Homo sapiens: one gene and its partner. The protein of the gene in region 1 purifies or fractionates together with the protein of each later gene. This does not show direct contact. Each region holds a gene or a part of one and is shown on either strand. Other genes may lie near its edges.

Region 1 (5,369 bases):
GCCTCCTAGGTTCAAGCAATTCTCCTGCCTCAGCCTCCTGAGTAACTGGGATTACAGGCACCAACCACCATGTCTGGCTAATTTTTTTGTTTGTTTTTTGTTTATTTTTGAAACGTTCAAGCGATTCTCCTGCCTCAGCCTCCCGAGTAGCTGGGATTATAGGCACCTGCCACTGCAGGAAGCTAATTTTTGTATTTTTAGTAGAGACAGGGTTTCACCTTCTTGGCCAGGCTGGTCTTGAACTCCTGACCTCATGATCCACCCGCCTCGGCCTCCCGAAGTGCTGGGATTACAGGCATGAGCCACCGCGCCCAGCCTTAATTTTTGTATTTTTAGTAGAAACAGGGTTTCACCATGTTGGCCAGACTGGTCTCGAACTCCTGACCTCAAGTGATCAGCCCGCCTCGACCTCCCAAAATGCTGGGTTTACCGATGAGAACCACTGCCACCATGCCCGCCTCTTAATAAGCAAGCTTCTAAGCCCCACTTCCCACCTAGTGAGTTATAGAGTCTCCAACTGTGTTAAACATTAGAAATGTTTCCAATGCTGGTCCAGGGTTTAGGACCACTAATACACCCCTAATTACAACCTATATATTTAGAAAGAATACAAATTAACTTACAATGATTGAAATAATTTATTTTTCCCCTTGTGGCTAATTTGTTTAAGTTAATCATAAAAGAAACCAAGTTTATATACTAAATTTTTATTATTAGAAATACTTTAAAATGTTAATATTTGAGAGAACATTAGTTTCTGGAAAATTTTTCCTTGTATAGATCGCCTCATACCCCAAAATGTTACATGTAATAAATAAGGTGGTACTCTCCTTATTTTTTAAAAAAATATATAAATGGAAAGAACTAAGAAAATTATTATGAGAATTTTGCCTCCTCTTACACAAATAATGATCTCATTCAAAATATTTACTGTATTCTCTAAAACTGAAGGACAATACATACCAAAATCTTCCTCAAAAGAAAGAACTCGGCTGGGCACAGTGGCTCATGCCTGTAATCCCAGCACTTTGGGAGGCCAAGGTGGGCAGATTGCCTCAGGTCAGGAGTTCGATACCAGTCTGGCCAACATGGTGAAACCCCGTCTCTACTAAAAATACAAAAAAATTAGCCAGGCGTGGTGGCATGTGCCTGTAATCCCAGCTACTCGGGAGGCTGAGGCAGAGGAATTGCTTGAACCAGGGAGGTGGAGGTTGCAGTGAGCCTCTGTCTCACCACTGCACTCCAGCCTGGGCGACAGAGCGAGCCTCTGTCTCAAAAAAAAAAAAACTCATTAACTCATTACAATCTGAATGGACAATAACAATATATAAGGATACAAAATGTCACTCCTGCAAAGAAACACTAGCATAACCCTGAGTCTGAAGCAACTGCTGCTGTGAAACGTACCAGCTGAAATTTTAAATAAGTAAACATCTGGCTGGGCGCGGTGGCTCACGCCTGTAATCCCAGCACTTTGGGAGGCCAAGGCGGGCGGATCATGAGGTCAGGAGATTGAGACCATCCTGGCTAACACGGTGAAACCCAGGCTCTACTAAAAACACAAAAAATTAGCCAGGTGTGGTGGCGGGCGCCTGTAGTCCCAGCTACTCGGGAGGCTGAGGCAGAAGAATGGCGTTAACGTGGGAGGCGGAGCTGGCAATGAGCTGAGATCGCGCCACTGCACTATAGCCTGGGTGACAGAGCAAGACTCCATCTCAAAAAAAAAAAAAAAGGAAACATTTTAGTACTACCCCAGAAACTGGAGACCTCAGTCTATATTTGAAGGACAACGAAGTTTCACACAAATCACTTTATTGTAATTTCCTTCAACTCTGTTCACAAACTCACTTACTAAACATAAAAATTCAAAGCACAAATGAATACATTTACAATTATCAGAAAATGTTTATTTTCTATCCTAGATGTCTTCCTAGTATTGAGACCCTACAAGACATGTCCACTTGGATGTCCCCCAGGCCTCTCAATTTCATGTTTCAAATTACCTATTTCAAGAAATAGCATCTATTCATCTACCCATTCACTCAAGTCAGAAAGCTCAAATATTCTGGACTCATTACTCACCACCCACATCTTCCCTAACACCTTACAACCATCCCCCTCATGTCCTTTCCCATTGCCCTGCTTCTGACCAATTTTTAGTCCTAAACTGCTACATTAAACTCCTTCAATTTAATGGCTCCAACCTGGTGCCCTGTCAACTCTCAACAGAGAGAATTATCATCACGATTCTTACGATTACCACTTTTCTTTTAAAGCCTTCAATAAAGATTTTTAAATTCTCAGCACAGCAATACCAGTTGCCTACTTACCTCTTCTAACCTCATAACCTGATACTAACATAATTTCTCAGTCTAGAATAATTATCTTTACTCCTTCACCTCCTTTACCTAATCACTCCTACCGACTTTCAAAGATTCACCTTCTCCAGCATGGAAAAGGTATCCTGCTTTGAACTTTCACTGTATGCTCTGCATACCTTTATATCGTATCACAAATTTTTTACTAAATGCAAGCCAGTTATGGGTTGGGGACACAAAGGTGAACAAAACACAGGCCTAGACTTTAAGCACAGTGGAGGCAGAACATAAAGTCAACTGCAATATAGTCTGATAACTTTTTTTAAGCTAACATCTCAGTGTTTATTATATGCCAGGCATCATGCTAAGGATTTGTCATGTACTATCTCATTTACTTCTCCAATAACCTTATGATTCCCACATTACAGAGAAGGAAAAATAGAAGTTCTGTTATTTGCCAAAGGTTCAGTTAAGCTTTAGAACTGAGATATGAATCCAAGTCTGACTCTAGATCCGAAAACTCTTAATCACCATGCCTCTATTTCAACTGCCACAGCATTTAATTCAGTTTCCCCAGTGGCCAGCACACAGCAAGTACAAAACGTGTATTTGTTAAGTGAATGAACTTGATTGTTGAAGTTCTAAACTAATGACTTAACAGCAATATTACCAATACTTAACATCAATGTTATGATACTATAACATCAATACATTATTGATATAATGACAATGTCAATACTACAACTTTTAAGTGGTAGTCTCCTGCTTCAAAGAGTTCAAAAACTAACAGTTAGTGTATTTGTTAGATACACTAACAAATGTGAAGAGATCAATATCCCAAGTGACTCACCATGTCAAAGTTGGTAATAGCAAAACACTGGAAATTAATGTCTATCAGAGGCAGACATGTTAAACAAATCAAAATATATCCCATATCATGATCTATCCATATGCTATGGTCTTAATGTGTTCTCCCAAAATTTGTATGTTGATACTTAATCACTAGTAATGGTATTAATAGGATTAATGACCTTATAAAAGAGGTGCAAGGGAGGTGCTTGACCCTTTTGCTCCTTCTACTATGTTAGGGCACAGCATTTGTTCCCTCCAAAGGAAGTAGCATTTAAGGTGCCATCTTGGAAGCAGAGACGCCAAACCTGCTGGCACTGTGATCTTAGACTTCCTAGCTTCCAGAATGGTAAGAAATAGATTTCTGTTCCTTATAAATTACCCAGTCTCAGGTATTTTGTTGGAGCAGCACAAACAGACTGAGATATCATGTAACGGTTATGCAGCTGTATAAAAGAATAAGAATGCTCTTTATGTACTGATACGGAATAACCCAAATTACACTCATTGGAAAAAAACATGTGGGAAATAATGTGTCTTAATGCTACCAAGGGTGGGGGCAGGAAGGATAAATGTTTTTAACTTCCATATGCAAAAAACACCTTTGGAAGAACATACAAGAAACTGTTAACACAGGATGCCGAGGACTAGGAAACTGGGTGACTTGGGGGTAGAAGTAAGAAGGAGATTTCACTGTATCTCTCTGTTTAACCTTTTGAATTTTGAACCAAGTGATTATATTACCTATTAAAAAAAACAACAACAAAAAAAACCAGGCTGGGTGCGGTGGCTTGCACCTGTAATCCCAGCACTTTAGGAAGCCAAGGCAGGCAGATCACGAGGTCAGGAGAGACCAGCCTGACCAACATGGTGAAACCCCGTCTCTACTAAAAATACAAAAATTAGCTAGGCGTGGTGGCATGTGCCTGTAATCCCAGCTACTTAGGAGGCTGAGGAAGGAGAATCACTTGAACCCAGGAGGCAGAGGTTGCAGTGAGCCACGATCATGCCACTAGCCTGGGTGACAGAGCAAGACTCCGTCTCAAAAAAACAAAACAACAACAAAAAACCTCCCAATAAAATTTTTAAAAAGCAACCAGGTGCGGTGGCTCACACCTGTAATCCCATCACTTTGGGAGGCCAAGGCAGGTGGATCACCTGAGGTCGAGAGTTCGAGACCAGCCTGACCAATGTGGAGAAACCCTGTCTCTACTAAAAATACAAAAATTGGCAGGGCACAGTGGCTCACGCCTGTAATCCCAGCACTTTGGGAGGCCAAGACGGGCGGATCATGAGGTCAGCAGATTGAGACCATCCTGGCTAACACAGTGAAACCCCGTCTCTACTAAAAATACAAAAATTAGCCGGGCGCGGTGGCGGGCGCCTGTAGTCCCAGCTATTCAGGAGGCTGAGGCAGGAGAATGGTGTGAACCCGGGAGGCAGACCTTCTTACAGCGAGCCGAGATCGCGCCACTGCACTCCAGCCTGGGCGACACAGAGAGACTCCATCTAAAAAAAAAAAAAAAAAAAAAAAAAAAAATTCAGCCGGGCATGGTGGCACATGCCTGTAATCCCAGCTACTCGGGAGGCTGAGGCAGGAGAATCACTTGAACCGGGGAGGCGGAGGCTGCGGTGGCTGAGACTGTGCCATTGCACTCCAGCCTGGGCAACAAGAGCGAAACTCCGTTTCAAAAAAAAAAAAAAAGTTTTAAAAAAGCAATTTCAGAAATGAAAACAGAAACATCATAACATCCATGACCACAGCTTTCTTGATTGCTATGGTGTCAAAGTGTCTGATACTTCCTGGAGTCAAATACTTGTTAAATCAATGAACAAAGTTTACAAAAGTTTCAAATTACCACTGCAGGAATATTTCAAATATATTTTATAAAGCACAGCAAAACTGGTGGAAAATAGTTTTGATTTTCCTGAAAACAGTCAATCAGAGCCAAAGATTTTCAGGGCCCCATCCCAGGCCTATCATTTATCAAAGTGTGAAACACTATGAGAATCTGTATTCTTTGAAAAACACCATGACGTTCATTTTATTTGAAATCTTATATAATAAAGAAGTTATAGGGATGGGGAGACTTTAGAAAGTTACCCAGAAAAAACACTTTAAATGAGTCAACTAACAAAAACAAAAAAACTAATTCATGGCTATTAGAAATCTTATCAGTGGTTACCTGGGGCAGTAGAAGG
Region 2 (2,556 bases), on another chromosome or scaffold:
CTTCTTCTCATCCATGGAGACACCCCCAGGGCCCAGGGCCACCACCAGGAGCAAGCCCCCAATCACCGACATGGTCTGGAAGAAGTCGTATTTCAGGAAGTCATGCATGGGCTTGTAGACTGGAATGGTCCAGAAGGCGTTGAAATATACGTTGATGGCAAAGAGCCACACAACAAGAGTCAAAGCAGCCAGCTTGGTTTTAAAACCAATGGCCACTAAAATCATCAGAGCTGTGCCCACGATGTTCTGGACAATCTGCATAGGTTGAAACGTAAGAAATTCAAAATAAATGTGAGGAAAAGAGATGCTTTATAAACAAAAGTTCCAGCTGCTGCACGTCATGAAGTCTCTATCCATCAGGCTGATGTAGCTACTGCTGAGACGGCTGCTGGTGCAAGTAGGGAGATAAAAGCCAAAGGGAGGCAGGAGGCAATAAAGCACCAGCTTTGAAATGTGGAAGGTTTGGGGAAGACTGAAGTTCCCAACTAGTAACAGGCTGTGATTTACCAAGATGAATCTCTAATCCATAACTAAATTCCCAAGTGCTTCTTGGCCCACCCAGCCATCCAGGCCAGAAACATCCTCTCTCCTCTCTCCATGGCGCCAGGAGCTCTTCCTGGACACTACCCGGCCAGGGCTCTCAGTCAGCTCCGGAGGTGTGCTCTGGAAGCTCCTGGAGGCCTGCCCCTGACACCTGACACACAGGAATTACTTGAGAAAGATACGAACAGTGAGGAAAGAAAGAAGAGTAAGGGGAGCCCGGGTGGAGAGCCTTGGCCAACCAAGGGCCAAGCACACTCCACCAAGGTCAGAGGTTCTGGCCTTCATTTGCTGGAAAGAAGGCTTGACACACAAGAGATTGACGATGTTTTGGTCTGTTTTAATGGGATCAAAAAGTTTGCTCCGCCGAGCACGGTGGCTCACGCCTGTAATCCCAGCAATTTGGGAGGCTGAGACAGGCAGATCACGAGGGGTCAGGAGATCGAGACCATCCTGGCTAACACGGTGAAACCCTGTCTCTACTAAAAATACAAAAAATTAGCCAGGCGTGTTGGCAGGCGCCTGTAGTCCCAGCTGCTCGGGAGGCTGAGGCAGGAGAATGGCGTGAACCCGGGAGGCGGAACTTGCGGTGAGCCGAGATCACGCACTGCACTCCAGCCTGGGGGACAGAGCGAGACTCCGTCTCAAAAAAAAAAAAAAAAAAGTTTGCTCCATTTCAGCAGCTCCCCCAGGCTGTGGTTAATACCCAACCAGGGAGGGGTGAGCAGGGAGGGGGTGGGGGAGGGACAGCATTCACAGGAAACCAGACCGGTTCAGGCAAGTAGGAATACTTACAGAAAAGAAGCTGGCGTCAAAGTGAAGGAGGGTCATGAACATCAGAACCAGCAAGACCCTGCCTCCGAGCTGCATGTACTGTTTGGGGGAGCTCTCACGCATGGTGGGGACGCCCGCAAACATGCTCTTCCCTTCAGAACGGGATTCTGCTAGGAGCAGCAACAGGCCTCCTCCCAGGGCCAGGTTCCTGAGGAACAGATATGTGGGCTGGAAGCTAAGCCTCACCAGGATCTGGCCTGTCTGTGAGACCAGGTGCAGGGAGACCTTGCTGCCAGTATAAGAAGGCCCTTACTTCCCTTTCTCCAAACCCAGTGATCTGCCAAGCAGGACCAGGCAGGCATGCGCACAGGACCTCAGACTCGAGTTACACCCATGTAAAACCTTACATAGCTCAGGAGACAGAGGTATCTTTACAACTCGACAGTGACAGGCTACCTGAACACACACACAACCGAGTCCTAGTCACAGCTTCAGTGTTGACCAGCTGGGTCCCCGTGGTCAGGTCTGTCCTCCACTCAGACCCGGAGTCCCCACACCCGTGAAATAAGGGTCAGAAGAGACGGCTTCAGTCTCTACTATTCTAGGGGCTCTGCAACATCCTCTTCAGAACCTGTTTCTAAGAGGCACAATTTAGACAGGGGGGTCCAATCTTTTGGCTTCCCTGGGCTACCCTGGAAGAACTGTCTTGGCCACACATAAAATACACTAATGCTAATGATAGGTGATGAGCTAAAAAATAAAACTTAAAAATCACAAAAAAAACTCTCAATGTTTTAAGAAAGTTTTTGAGTTTGTGTTGGGCCATGTTCACCCCGTGGACCACAGGCTGGACAAGCTTGGTTTAGACCCAGAGAAGTCTACTCAAACCAATAGTTAACTGAGTTTAGAAATACAGATTGAGTATCCCTAACCTGAAATGCTTAGGACCCAAAGTGTTTCAGATTTTGGTATATTTGCATTATATACTTATTGGCTGAGCATCCCAAATCTGAAAATCCAAAACCTGAAATGCTCCAATGAGCACTTCCTTTGAGCGTCATGTTGGTGCCCAAGATTTTTCCCATTTTGGAGCATTTCAGACTTTGGATTTGCAATGCTCAACCTGTAGAAGGAGCGTATACTAAAACCAACCAGAATGCACATACCTCATCAAAAACTTCAAGTCCCATAAAATGCTGTAGGCAATCGTCTGAGGGGAAAGAAGAGAGAGATACTTGAGTC

The links. Proteins that work in one complex are often made in the same cells at the same time.
Region 2: the proteins of SEPTIN7 (region 1) and SURF4 fractionate together in Homo sapiens (co-fractionation; one large-scale study listed by BioGRID). This does not show direct contact.

Annotation. Positions count from the first base shown.
Region 1 is NC_000007.14:35,806,690-35,812,058, reverse strand, and holds part of SEPTIN7 (septin-7), read right to left. Parts: intron 1-5,369.
Region 2 is NC_000009.12:133,363,505-133,366,060, forward strand, and holds part of SURF4 (surfeit locus protein 4), read right to left. Parts: intron 2,525-2,556; coding exon 2,481-2,524; intron 1,523-2,480; coding exon 1,336-1,522; intron 256-1,335; coding exon 1-255. UniProt on the Homo sapiens protein: Endoplasmic reticulum cargo receptor that mediates the export of lipoproteins by recruiting cargos into COPII vesicles to facilitate their secretion.